Linked DNA regions of Homo sapiens. The protein of the gene in region 2 interacts with the protein of the main gene of each other region in a biochemical or structural test. Each region holds a gene or a part of one and is shown on either strand. Other genes may lie near its edges.

Region 1 (3,500 bases), on a different chromosome or scaffold from region 2:
CTGACATGGAAAACAGAGAACAGGAAGGGCCTAGGGGCCAGGCTGTTGGGCTTCACAGTCTGTTCTCTTTCATCCAGATCTAGAAAGTAAACCAAGGGATGATTACCTTTAACGGCAGAAAGGAAAGCTGATGTCTCAGCCTGGGCACTAAGCTCTGCACCCCAGCCATGTCTAGTTCTTCAGTATTTCTGTCCTGGTCTTGTGTGTGTGACAACAAACTTCCCTGGTACCCGAAGCTCAGGATGTCTGTAGAGGAGACCCCAGAATTGGCTGTGCTATTCTTTTCTTCATCTGGGTTATTTCCACCAACACCTATAAAAACAAGCCAAGAAAAAGTCAACAGCTTAAAAAGGCCGGTTTCTTGGTGGCATCTCTATGTGGGCACAGCGTTTTCCTCCAGTGACAGAGTGATCGTTTATAGCTGCTCGGGTACAATATGAATTTAGCTCCTCCTGAAAGATGTTACATTTAGATTAGAGAAAGGGAAGATTCTACATGGGATTTAGAAACCTAGATAGAGCTTACGTGACCCAACTATGAATGCGTAGGCTCAAAAGAAGTTCATAAGGCCAGCTATCCCTTATTAAGCTCTAGCCATGTGATGGGCACCTTAGATATACATATAGGAAGATATGGACATCTTCCCATCTTCTCAGCAAACCCACCAGGAAGGTGTAATCCCAGTTCAAACATGAGAAAACAGAGTCAAAGCTATTAAGTGTCCTGCCCCAAATGCTACAGCCAGCATGTGGGAACTGTCTTAAACCCAGCCTCTCCTGGACACCCCACTGAGCACATCTGCAGCCACCATGTGATCCAAAAACCAACGTATCAGGTCCTTTTGGGAGGCTTGGTAATAACCAAACTGCAGGCCCCTGTGAGTGAAAGCTAGGCCACTGATTCCTGCTCACCCTGTGTCTGACTCGTGACCTGGCATAGAACAAAGAAAAGAACGTGAGGTTGTGAATCAGTAGAAAAACCTTGGGCAAGGTGCTTAACATAACTGAACCTAAATTTTCCTGTATCTAAAGTAGAGATAATATCAATATCAATAATATTGTAGAGTTGGTGAGGCTTAGAGATTATACGTACAGAAAAGATTTTACATATGTTAAGAAAGATAAAAATATATATGTATATATGAAAGAATATATATTCCCTCATATATATATATATATATATGGCTCTCATACACACACACACACACACACACACAGACACGCACAGCTTAGTACATGGTAGAGCCTCAATAAATGTATCTACTGTTAACATGTTATTATTAGCTGCTCCACAAATATATGTGGGAGGAATGAATAACAGTTAGATTTTCTTTAGACCTGGATACAAGTAGATTTACTACTTTTGATACAGACTCATTAACACTCAGGGAAGTGCCCAAACTCACATGCTGAATGAATTCAATTTAAATAAATCTGATTTAATGAATTTGATTTGAAGTTATTCAAATCTAAAGGTATCCAGCAGGGAGTGGCAGGGCCACTGTTTCATAATGCTGTATTTCTGGCCCTTTCATTCACAGATTCTGTCATCATTGTCCTTCTGGCAGTGTCATAAGCATCGGCTCATTCTCTTCCACATCCTCCATGAGAGGTGAGGATGGGACTTACGATTGAAATGAAAAGTCAAACCATGCTGCAACTGGTGTCCTGCCTAGTAGACATATGAGCTGGGAGACCTTTTTTGGTAAAGGAAACTCAATTTATTGTAGACCATGACAGATGCTCATGATGGACATTTTATCTGTCTGATCCTGATCTCCAATCTAGCCCAGCTGCCTTAACAGCAGCCTAAAGAGATAGAAGAAAGTCATGGTAGTCAAGTCTCTGCCACGGAGACCCAGCCAGCATCACCAAGGAAACATCTTCCTCTGGCAGTGGCCCAGCTATGAGGAAACCCCACCATGATGAAGGCAGCATTGCCAAAAGGTGGCTGGGGTGCCACAGTGAAAGGACATTTTATTCCCAGCCATTGTGGGAAACTCATTGTCTGGAATTCTAATGTGAGGTTGTGGTTTGAGAATAGCAGACCTCGAGTACTGCTTTTTGACAACCTCCATCACAGCAGGCCATCCTTGGACTATGCTGAATTGTGATTTGGTCACCTGCATTGTGTTTCCTGACAACACATGGGATGGTTTGACTGCTCCTGTCAGTGGAGGATGTGGAAGAAAACACAGGGATTGCTGAACCACTGCAGAAAGGAGAGCAGTGGTGCTGGGAAATCCAACAGACAGCAAGCCAGAGACTGGCATTGGAGATGTACTGAGGCCAGTCCCTGAGAAGGCTTCAACCCCAGGATGAAGGGTGTGGGGCTGAGACCCCAGCATGGCCACCTTCCACCACCCATAGCTTCTGGACAGGGGAGCTGCATGGCACTGTGTACAGGTACAAGAGTGAGAGAGCATGCATGCAGAAGTGTTCAGAAGGCAAGGCAAATGCAGTGCCTGCATTTAGTACCTAGAAAATGCTGGCTGGTGTGACAGGAAGTTCTCCTGTATACAAGGGAAAACTGTACAACACCCCTCAAGTGTGAAGAAGCAATCATGAGCCTGAATTTGCAGGCGGTCTGCTGTTAGTTTACAGGATCACCCAACCAAAAAGCAGCATTGGTCTCAGGAAACTAGGGAGAAGGGATGTTAGCCTACTCCCATTACTTCCTCCAGGCTCCTCAAGCTTGGTCCCGATAAAAACAATAGTATTTTCCTTTAATATAGGCAGTTGTTGCTCTCTCATTCTTATCTAAAGGATGAAGAAAAGCATCATCAAAAAGTACTTTACTCTTTAGGTTGATCAGGAACATGCACATCAAGTAAGAAGAGCGAGCTTGCCACGAAAATTCAGCTTTAAGAAAAGGCCAGGTGCAGTGGCTCATGCCTGTAATCCCAGCACTTTGGGAGGCTGAGGCGGGCAGATCACTTGAGTTCAGGAGTTCCAGACCAGCCTGGCCAACATATTGAAACCCCGTCTCTACTAAAAAATACAAAAATTAGCCGGGTGTGGCAGCGCGTGCCTGTAATCCCAGCTACTCAGGAGGCTGAGGCAGGAGAATTGCTTGAACCCAGGAGGTGGAGCCTGCAGAAAGCCAAGATCGTGCCATTGCACTCCATCCTGGGTGAAAGAGTGAGACTCCATCTCAAAAAAAAAAAAGGAAAATCAAATACCGCATGTTCTCATTTACAAGTGGGAGCTAAATAATGAGAACCCATGATCACAAAGAGGGGAACAACACACACCAGAGCCTACTTGAGGGAGGAGGATGGGAGGAGAGAGAGGATCAGGAAAAATAACTATTGGGCACTATGCTGAGCACCTAGGTGATGAAATGGTCTGTATAGCAACCCCTGTGACACGAGTTTGCCTGTAATAACAAACCTACACATGTAGCCCTAAACCCAAAACAAAAGATTAACAAAGAACAGTGCTTGTCTCCTCCCCAGCTGATTGCTATACCTATACAAAATATAGAAATTTTGTATAGGA
Region 2 (3,500 bases):
GAGCAGGGAAGGACTAGCCCCAGGTGAGATGTCCGAAGCTGTGGCTGTGGAGGGAGCCCCAGGCTCCACGGGAAGGGTGTCAGGAGCAGGGGTGGCCAGGGCTTTGGGGGCTGTGGGTGGGGAGGGGCTGGGTCCACCTCTTGCAGGAGGGTCTGGGGAGACAAGCGGGCTCTGAAGGGGGAGGCAGAGGAAGACAGGAAGGGCCACTCAGCAGGCAGGCGCGGGACAGGAGGCAGGCAGGCACAGTGTATGTTAAGAGGAAAGGAGACCAAGGAAAAGAGAAATAAAAACAGCCCATTAATTCTCCACTGGAGAAAACTGCGGGGGAAGGCTCCAGGGGTGTCTGTGCCGAGGTGGGGCATGAAGGCCAGACATCCCCTGCCTCTCAGCTACAAATGCCCTCTCCCAAAACAGGCGGGATGTATCGGCGGCTGTTCTCCAGGGAGTCCGTCACATACAGCGGCTCTGGTGCTCAGGACAGAGCCTCACATAGGCAGACAGACCCCGGGCCATGAGAAAAACTCTCACACTGGGACCCCCAACCCCCCCGGTATGGCCCAGCCCAAAGTCACACTCACCTGATGGCTTGCAACCATGGGCCCAGCATCACACGAGGCCTTGTGGGTGCACAGGTGCTGCCAGACACACCAGTTACACCCCCAGCGGCTGCTCACACAGGCCTGGCACCTGCACAGAGCACAGCCATGGGGCAAGGGTCGCCACAGGGAAGCCCAGGCCTGGGGACAGGGCGAGGAACTCACTGCGCAGATGGGCGGAGTTCAGTGACCGCCACACAGTCATAGAAAGAGAGGGAAGTTTTGGCGATCACAACAGCGCCAAATCTGAGCTCCACGCTCACGGATACGTAGTCTGCAGAGGGGGAGAGAGGGCCAGGGTTAAGCAGCAAGGAGGTGCACTCAGACCCAGAGCCGATATCCTGAGCCCTTGAATGGGGAAGAGGACCCGGGATGAGGGAATACAGTCCAAGGGCACAGAATGGAGGCTTCAGGTGGTTGGGGAGTGGGAGGACCCAGAGAAAGGCATCCATTCATGGCTCTTTGCCTGGATTCACACTTTAACCCCACCGCATCCCCTGAAGCAGGGGCTGGCCCCCACCAGGCTGGCCCATTCTCTCACCCACCGGCTCCTCTCGGCAGCACTGGGGCCTCACTAGGGTCTGGGGAGGGGCACATCACACCAGAACCAGTCAGCAGGGCAGGACTCTGATGTTCCCCAAAGTGGCAGGAATATGACTCCCCTGGCCACAGGGGTGGCAGGTCTGGCACTGATAGGAAAACCTGCCAAGAGAGCCAGGGACACACTGTTGGGGCTAGTGGGCAGCAGACCAGGGCTCACATTTATGGGACACCCAATGTGGGCAGGCACCAGCAATCAACAGCCCTCAGGCCTCCCCAAACACCCTCTGGCCTGAGTTAGAAATAGATGGGGAAACTGAGCTCCTAAAAGAAGTGACTTGTGTGAGGCCATGTGGTATCTGGCATGTCCGACATCAGGATCCAAGATCTCTACCCAGACCTTGATGCCCAGAGCCCTCCCCACCAGGGCCCTGCCTATCTGATCATTCACCTCCCTCGTCTCCTCTCGGCTGATGTTGGCAGGACTCATGGCTGCCACTTGCAGACAGCCCAGCTCAGGCTGGAAGCTCCATAGCCACTGCTCTGGGCCCTGGCCCCTCGAGCACTCAGAACGGCGACTGCACCTGGGCGAGATGACCAGTGTCTATCTGTGACCCTCATGGGCCACTGGGAGTTCATAGGGTAGGGACTCCTACAATCTGGAGGACCTGGGCAGGGCCCTAGAGTGGGCATGATAGAGGCTCCTGTGTCTGCCCTGGCAGGGCACTGATGCCCAGTGCAGAGGATGGGGGTGAGGAATTGGGGTGTCTGGGGATCAGGGGTTGAGAGTCATGGTCTAAGGGTCAGGAATTCTGGACAGGACAATTATGCAGGAGCATTGTGGGCTTGAGGCTGGGGCTGGGATGGGGTCAGAAATCTGACCTGCCAAGGAGCACGCACCACCCACAGTATGGGTCCCTGTGAGCAAGGCAAGATGCACAGTCCAGGTGCTGAGCACAGGAAGCCACAGGAACCTTCAGAAGCTGAGACAGCAAAGAGGACCTGAGGCCAGCAATCCAAACACCAGTGGCTCACCCACAAGTGGGTCCCTGGCCCCACCCAGAGGCCCCTCCCAGCAGCCATGCCCTGGCTTGTGCCTGGCACTCACTGTGCTCTGGGTCATGACATACAGGTGCTCAAAGGTCCCATCAAAGGTGAGGTCTCTGCTCACTGCAGACCCCTGCTGGATGCTCTGTGTGGAGTATGGGTGGCCATCGCTCCCTGGGCCCAAGTAGACCTGGGATCAGAGACCACAGGGTCTGGGACCCAAGTCCATGGCCAGAGGCCCAAAGCCCTCCCCTCCTCCACCCAATCGAAGTAATTTACAAATAGAATTTCCTCCTAGGCAGTCACAGGTCATACCAACTGGCCTAGCGGGGATGGAGGAAAGTCACAGGTAAACACCACCCAGTCCTGGGGAGAGGAGCTCAGGTCATCTCTCCTGGCCCAGGGGTCACAGGGATAGCTTAAACCAGGCTGGGTCCCTAGCAATCTGTTCCCTCCAGACTCTGGGGCAGGGGCCAGTACTTCCTGTGGGCTCACCCTGTGCAGCTGCCCTTGACTATCACCCAGGAAAGCGATGGTGTGTCCATCTTCCATGGTGACTGCCACAGCTGTTAGCTGAATCCCTGGCCACTCCAGAATTGGTGTGGCTTCCAGCGGGACCCGGCTGGCCATGGGGCTGGGCGTGTGGTCTGAGCCACAGGGATAAGCATCCAGGGTGTCCTATAGGCAGCAAGAAGCATCAGGAAGGCCCTCCCTGGATAACCTCCTCGGCCGCATCGTCCCTGGACAACCTCATTCCCTCCCCCAGCCGCTCTGGTAGCTCTCCCTGTACAACTGTGTTTTCTCTGCTGGCCCTCCTGGGACAATCTCATCCCCGCCCCCAGTCTCTCTTCCCTTTTTTATCCATCCTGAGGCTACAGCTCATCAATCCCGACCTCACCTTCCTCTCCTGCTCAAGAACCAAAGGTCTCATTCCATTCTAGGTCCCTGTCCCTACCCAAGAACCCCCAAACACCCTCCCAATCCACCGACACAAGTGCCACCCCTCCAGCATCCTGGTCCAAGCCCATCCAGACACTGCTGCCACCCGCATGCCAGATTTGTGGTAAGGTACCCTTCCACTGCCCAGGCAACATAGGAAGCACTTAATATTTGCTGATCTGATCATCCTCGTGCTACCACCAGCTGCCCTCGGACTCTCTGGGCAGCTCCTTGGCTGCAAATGCTTGGCCAGTGGCCTCAGAGAGGCGGAAAAGTGGGGCAATACTGGAACTCACCACTGGCAGCTGTGCACAGTCAGAATTGACATCATACTCGATGTAGGCCACCTCGGTCCCATCCTCAGCACGACCCTCCCGG
Region 3 (3,500 bases), on a different chromosome or scaffold from region 2:
CATAGATCATATTTTAAAATTTCACTCTGGCAACAGCCACAAAACTGGCTCACCAGCAGCGCCCCCTGCTGGTCTGTGAGTAAGATCAGCCTCCAGGAAGGACAGTTCCTCTCTGAGCTCCCCTCTTGGCCCTGCTGCTCCTTCCTCAGCCCCTCTGTCCCCCTCCAGGCTAAAAACAACACTCTTCTCCAGCCAAGGAGGGAGCCAAAGGGCTTGTGATCTTTTCCTGAGTCTTTGGTATCTTATACTTCAGAATCACTTTTTACTTCCTCTGAAGACCACACGCAAAGGCAGAACTAAGCCTCATGTGCAGATGTGCTTTCTTTATACAGCATGCCAGGGCCATGCGAAAATTTGCATTTTAATAACAAAAGTTATGCAAAGATTAACTTCATTTTTAGTAGAGAAAATGTTTTGTAAAGGGATTTCTTCAAATAGCTCCCTCATATATTTAACCACAACTCAATTTATAAACAGCTCCTGAAGAACCTATTTCAAGAAGTAGAATAAAACTGTATTCACTATCTTTGCAAACCCAAAGAGTATGCAAAAGATCACTGATCCACTGGAAACATCAGTAACAGCATGGAGGCTTTCCACCTGAGGGTGGTTTCCACAGCGCCTGGATCCTGGAGCCGCCCTGGGCTGTGAACTTTGGGAGGGGAGTGCCCTGGCAAGGGCTTACTTACATCCTCCGACTCGAACACATGGCAGATCATCTTATACTGCTTCTTGCCTTCCTGGGCCCCGGGCGTGGTCTCGATGCAGTCCTGAGAGGCTGACCGGGGCATGCGGCGTCTGGCCATCAGCACTACAATGTTCCCAATGTCGGCGATGTAGGAGATGGTACGCAAGGCGTGGTCCATCATGGTTTCCTGTCGGGAGGGAGACAGTGCCACGTCAGGGAACACTACTGGGACAATCCATTGAAAAGTACTCCAGGGCTGGGCATGGTGGCTCAAGCCTGTAATCCTAGCACTTTGGGAGGCCGAGGCAGGCAGATCACCTGAGGTCAGGAGTTCAAGACCAGCCTGGCAAACATGGTGAAACCCCATCTCTACTAAAAATATAAAATAAATAGTTGGGCGTGGTGGCAGGTGCCTGTAATCCCAGATACTCAGGAGGCTGAGGCAGGAGAATCGCTTGAACTGTGAAGGCAGAGGTTGCATCGAGCCGAGATTGCGCCACTGCACTCCAGCCTGGGCAACAAGAGCAAAACTCCGTCTCAAAAAAAAAGAAAGGAAAAAAAAAAAAAAGGCACTCCAATTATTCGGGTTTCGCAACCCTGATTCTCCTGACATTTGGGGCCGGATCATTCTTTATTGTGGAGGGCTGTCATGTGCACTGCAAGGTGTTAGGAGCATTCCAAGCCTCTCCCCAGGAGATGCCAGTAGCACCTCCCTCTTCCCAAGTGTGAGAATGAAAATTATTTCCAGCCATTGCTAAATGTCCCCTGAGGGACAAAAATCACACTGGTTGAGAACCACGGCCCTAATTAACAGAGCGTTTTAGGGTAATGATTTACAGTCAAAGTCACTCTGCCCTCATCTCAGTCCCAGCTTCCAAAATGGACTGTGCAGAACCCAGGGAGGCGTGATGTCAGGTGAGCTCTCGGGCTGTCTCTGCTGGAGCAGGGGCTTGCCATATAGTGAAACCCATACATTCCCGGATGAGAGGCCACCAGTGGCTCTGGAGAAGGGTCCCTTCTGAACGAGGTGCTCTCCTATGGGCCCAAGAGTGGCCTGGCCTGGCCTTCCTGCTGTGCAGAAGAGGAAAGCATCAAGGCCAATGTTTGTCATTCAATGAGCTCTTCCCAGGGAGCCCAAACAGCCTGGGCCTGGGTCAAAAGACACCAAGGTAGCCCACCTGACTTCAATTCCCTCGGCCTCTGGCAGGCCCATGACTCTTGATGGTTTTTTGTCCTTGGACAGGAATCTCCAGCCAGCATCTTGCCCACAACCCCTACCTAACAAGACTGCACACAAAGCTCAAAAAAACTAATCAACTGGTCTTTTATGCTTTTGTCCTCTGTTCACAAAAGAAACTCGAGTGTTTCTGCAACCTCTGGACCTCATTTCTTCCTCACAGAATCCACTTTGCAGTGCATGCTGCTTCACCTTTGTCTCAGCTGCTGACTTTTTTTCTGGCCAAAGCCATGAGGCTGTTTCATAACCACAAGAGTCACCTTCCAGGGAGGGACACTGAAAGGAAACAGTTGGAGTGGCTCTTCAGCATCTCCTGATTTCTGTCACTGTCATAAATGCCTGAATCAATCCCCAGGTGTCAGAAACATGTTCCTTCCCCAGCTCCTATCAATGGCAGATCCCTCCTCCTCCTCACAGAGGCTGCCTACCAACATGGCCGCATCTGCTCTCCTGCTCTGAATGGCTACTTTGGCCTTCCCAGTCTCTCACCTGTTCCCTCCTCTCCAGCTCCTCTGCCCCAACAGCTTTAATTTGCATGCCCTGTCCAGAATCCAAAGATCCAGAAGGGAAAGGAAAGGAAGGGAGAAGGGGCCAGTGGAGTGAACCCTGAACTGGGCCAGCCTAGGAGATTTCTCATCTCTCCTTCACAGGATCCAGCGGAAGAGTTACTCTTTCAGCTGGGGCTGTGGGTATTAGGAGGTTCAGAGATGTTCAGGAACTTGTTTAAGGCTATACAGCTCATGAGGATGGGGCTCAGCTTCAATCCCCAAGCCCATCCTCCCACCCCAGGTGTGGCACCCTCCATGTACACTGGCAAGAAGAGGTACTGGGGCAGGCCTAGCAGCTGTACCCAGAAAGGCCCGCCTGCAAGGCTGGCCCTCTCTGGCATCTGGGAACGTGGATCTCAGGAGGGTACCCAGCACCCGAACTGACAACCATGGTTCCTTTTGCCTAAACCGTTTGTGCAAACAACGTGGTCTAGGCTGGACACCTCTTTTGCCTCTGGGAGTCTGGAATTTTGGTAGCTGCCAGGCAGAGGGTGCCTATGACCAACTCCCAGTAAACACCTTGGGCTGAGTGTCTATGAGCTTCCCTGGTAGACACAACTTCTCTGTTGTCACAGCCCCTTGCCAGGGAGTTCAGTGTGTCCTGTGTGACTGCGGGGAGGGCTCTGGAAGCCTGCATCCGCTTTGCTGATTCTGCTCTGGAGCCATCTGCTGAAATAAATCTCAGCTGTGAGCTCACTGAGTCCTGTCAGTCCTCCAAACCACCCAGCCTGTGGTGGTCTTGGGGACACCCAGCACAGGTGGGTGATGAGGCATGGGGCTCGGAGGGTTGGTGGGGGGATCTAGTCCAGATGGTTTGCCCACAAAAGATCAGAAAATGAAGTCAAAGTCTGTGAAGCGTCGCAAGCCCAGTGCCTGAGCCCTGGCACCTGTCTCCCTGAGTTTTCACCAAGTGCCAGGCTCCAGGAGGGGGCTGGTTCCAGGGTAGGGGGGTGCAGGACACAAAGATCAGTGGGACAAGGTGCAAGCCTGGACACAGGACAGACATGGGATGAGGAAGGGCGCCCCT
Region 4 (3,500 bases), on a different chromosome or scaffold from region 2:
ACTGCAATCCAAGGGGGATATAGATAAACTTGTAACTGGTATTCCTGAAAGTGCAGGGTGTTTTGAGAGAATACACTAGGGGCAACTGAAAGAGTCTTGCGGGTCAGGGAAGGCTTTCCTGAGGAAGCAGTATTGAAGAAAAGACCAGTATGATGAGTAAAAATCAGCCATGGAGCAGAGGGAGGAGGAACAGGGGACAGTAGAGGGAAGGGTAGAAGAAAGGACCTGACAGGAGTTCAATCTAGGAAGAACAAAAAGAAGTAACAAGTGAGACAGAAGCGCGGACCAAATTACCAAAGTCCTTTCAGACTTCACAGAGGTCTGAATTTTATTTCAAAGGAAATGGGAAGACAGAAAATTGTCTTATAGGAGGTAATGTAACGATCAGCTGGAGTACAGTGGCGCGATTTTGGCTACCTGCAACCTCTGCCTTCCGGGTTCAAGGATTCTCATACCTCAGCCTCCAAACAGTTGGGACTACAGGTGTGCGCCACCACGCCCAGCTAATTTTTGTATTTTTAGTAGGGACCGGGTTTCACCATGTTGCTCAGGCTGGTGTACAACTCCTGACCTCAGGTCATCTGCCCATCAGGAGGATCATTCTGATTACAGTAGGGACAGAGCTGCGGAAGGGGACAAGGCTAAGTTATTGGGAAACTCCGTAGGGAATCTGTTTCTGTGGTTCATCAGTGAGATGCAGCTGACCTGAACTCAGGTGGGGGTAGTGGGTATTGGGAATGTGGACTCCACAAGACTTTGCATATGAGGAATGACGAGACGGAAGAGTGAGAATGCTGACCTAGTTTTTGACTTGGACCAATAAATAGATGGTAGTGCTACTCAGCGAAAGAAGGTGCACAGGAAGAGGGAGAGTCAGCGGTAGCGGTGAAATCTGATGAGTTTGCAATGCCTGGGGAATATCCCCCAAAAGTGTTCGGTAAATAGGCAACTGGCTGAAAAGGTCTAGAGATCAACCATAAAGCCTGAGATAGAGGGGTAGATACGGAGTCACCAGCACACAGGAGAGTGCAAAATAAAACCCAGGGAGTGAGAAAGAGAATACAGGAATGGAAAGGCCTTGGCTCTGGATAAAACCAACAATGGGGCAAGAAGAGGAAGAAAAACCCTACAAAAGAGGCAGATAGAGAGGGAGATAGAAAGGAGGGGAGGAGAAGAGAGAGCGCCTGAGAAGGAACTAGGGAGTCTGGGATGAAAGCAAAAGCAAACTGTCCAGCATTCCAGAAGGAAGAGTCAACACATGGATTCATACAAACTCGTACCCAGAAAAATGTCTTATTGTATTGTTTACAGTATTTCAAAATCAACCAACAAGTGTATTTCATCAGCCATAATACATTTCAGTCATAGAATAATCTTAGCCTAGGTCAAGAAGCAAAACAAAAATAAGTTCATTTGCATTAGTAAAAAGTTTAATAATAAAGTGACAAAAATTCTATTACTGGACAAGAGTATGGACTACAGATAAAAAATGAAATAAATGTTAGAAATGGAAAAAAAATCATGTGGTTAAGAAAGCTGAGGGAAAGTTTTCTCTTCTTTGGCTTAAAAAAAAAGTTAAACCTTGAAAGATGAAGCTATATGGATATGAAAAGGGGTGATAATATCATAGAGGATTCAACAGAAGAATCTATATAAAGTGATTTTGTGAGCAAAGTTACTCAAGGATTGGTGTCAGAAGACTTCACGGACTACACACACACACACACACACACACACACACACCCCAAAAATCACTTAAGAGGTTCAGAGTGAGTGATTTCAAGTTTTAAAAATACACCTTGAGATGTATAAAAGTATATAAATTCGTGTGAGTACCATCTGGACCATCCTTACTGTATAATGCCAAGACATATTCTACTGAACTGTCCTAATTTCTTATTTGAAGAGGGCTGTTTATTTGTTTTGAGGCTTCCAATATATCCTGGGGGTGGGGAGGCCTAAATGTATATCATATATCAACACAATAAAATTGCAATGCTTAAGATGAACAAGAAATCTCTGATTGTTTTTCAACAAAGCACAAGGCCTTATTCAGAGAAGGTGGAGTTGGCTAATTAGATAAAGCATGAAACAGAGACTCCTGTTAATTCATTACATTGATTTCTTCTGTCCTATAAAGTTAGGTTTTCTTGGCTGATTAACAGCATTACTATTAAGACACACATGCTCATCTCTTTGTTAGTTAAAAACACAATAATAAATGTAGTATCCAAACACATTATTGATTTTTAAAATTTTTTAAAGAGTGATAGTACCACTGTGGAATGTAGTGCTTCTAATAAAATTGACGACAAAAATTAAATGCAATGTTCAAAAACCTAAATATCAGCCCAAAGTATTTCATTAGCAACTAACTCCCTATTACTAAAAAATATTCACAAGATTTAATGTGTATCAGAAGCATCAATCACAGATTAAAACACGTCACAACTAAATACAGGCAATAATTACACAAGTTCTCTTCACTCCCAACCCTGAGGTTTTAAAATGTTTTCTGACAACATATATCCCCTTTATTTCCACTTCCACATAGAATCTAGGCAAAATACCTATTCTTTAGAAAGTCAAATAATATTGTAGTTTAATACCAAACCTAAATACTGTATATATATTTCACATAAGCAAAACACAGGTGATATTGTGTTTTCTTCATTGCTAAACTTAAAAACAAGATAGCCATGCTGCCAGCAGTAAGGTCCAAATGAAAACAAATTTCACAGCCGTTAAAAAATACATAACTGTCATTGTTAATAAAAGCCAAGTGTGCAACAAACTGGAAATACTGCTTGCTAGCCAAGGACAAGATGTGTCTAAATTCTTGGTTTCAGGACATCTCTTAAATGACCAAAAAAAAAAAAAAAAATCAAATAACATTAGTTCTTGCAAACAGAATGCAAATACAATGCTAATTAAAGTATTCACAAGACAATGACAAATAAGGCTTCAGGACCACAATACATATTATTATGTAACTGCAATACACATTAAGCAATCACCAGGTTGCAGGTAGGCCTTCCAAAAGGAGTTATTATGGTTTACCGTGATCAGAGGATTGTGGTGTTCCACTTAATCATGCTTTTGCCTGCAAGCAGGTGTTTACAGATGTCAAAAAGTAAAACACTGATTCTAAATGTAAACCTACAGTTCTGCCTAATAAATTGTACAGTAATAGCACACTGTACCTCACAACGTTTTCTGCATAAACTTTCTAATTCGACATGAAGTAAGCTGCATGAAGCAAGTTTCTCCGCTTGCTTTATGAACCAAAATTTAACTTCTGATTCATTTTTATTAAAATGCCAAAACTCACACACTTAGAGCCAGCCCTTGTTTCAAGGACTATGAAGTTAAAATTTAACATCCGGTGCAAAAGAAAGTGAGACAGTGAATGAGGGTTCATTTGGGTATGTTATTGTCTAAAGTAATCCTCAACCCTTCAATGAAAACATAGGCATCTCAAAAGTAAAATTTAAAGGATA

The links. Proteins that work in one complex are often made in the same cells at the same time.
Region 1: the proteins of PLXNB1 (region 2) and FRMPD2 interact in a test that uses a peptide from one of them, tested with the Homo sapiens proteins (one large-scale study listed by IntAct).
Region 3: the proteins of PLXNB1 (region 2) and APBA2 interact in a test that uses a peptide from one of them, tested with the Homo sapiens proteins (one large-scale study listed by IntAct).
Region 4: the proteins of PLXNB1 (region 2) and ARHGAP21 interact in a test that uses a peptide from one of them, tested with the Homo sapiens proteins (one large-scale study listed by IntAct).

The regions. Positions count from the first base shown.
Region 1 is NC_000010.11:48,180,697-48,184,196, forward strand, and holds part of FRMPD2 (FERM and PDZ domain-containing protein 2), read right to left. Parts: intron 313-3,500; coding exon 107-312; intron 1-106.
Region 2 is NC_000003.12:48,420,087-48,423,586, forward strand, and holds part of PLXNB1 (plexin-B1 precursor), read right to left. Parts: coding exon 3,419-3,500; intron 2,862-3,418; coding exon 2,679-2,861; intron 2,374-2,678; coding exon 2,245-2,373; intron 2,120-2,244; coding exon 2,019-2,119; intron 1,721-2,018; coding exon 1,588-1,720; intron 1,299-1,587; coding exon 1,142-1,298; intron 871-1,141; coding exon 762-870; intron 688-761; coding exon 579-687; intron 172-578; coding exon 1-171. UniProt on the Homo sapiens protein: Receptor for SEMA4D. Plays a role in GABAergic synapse development. Mediates SEMA4A- and SEMA4D-dependent inhibitory synapse development. Plays a role in RHOA activation and subsequent changes of the actin cytoskeleton.
Region 3 is NC_000015.10:29,098,974-29,102,473, reverse strand, and holds part of APBA2 (amyloid-beta A4 precursor protein-binding family A member 2), read right to left. Parts: intron 876-3,500; coding exon 690-875; intron 1-689. UniProt on the Homo sapiens protein: Putative function in synaptic vesicle exocytosis by binding to STXBP1, an essential component of the synaptic vesicle exocytotic machinery. May modulate processing of the amyloid-beta precursor protein (APP) and hence formation of APP-beta.
Region 4 is NC_000010.11:24,717,388-24,720,887, forward strand, and holds part of ARHGAP21 (rho GTPase-activating protein 21), read right to left. Parts: intron 1-3,500. UniProt on the Homo sapiens protein: Functions as a GTPase-activating protein (GAP) for RHOA and CDC42. Downstream partner of ARF1 which may control Golgi apparatus structure and function. Also required for CTNNA1 recruitment to adherens junctions.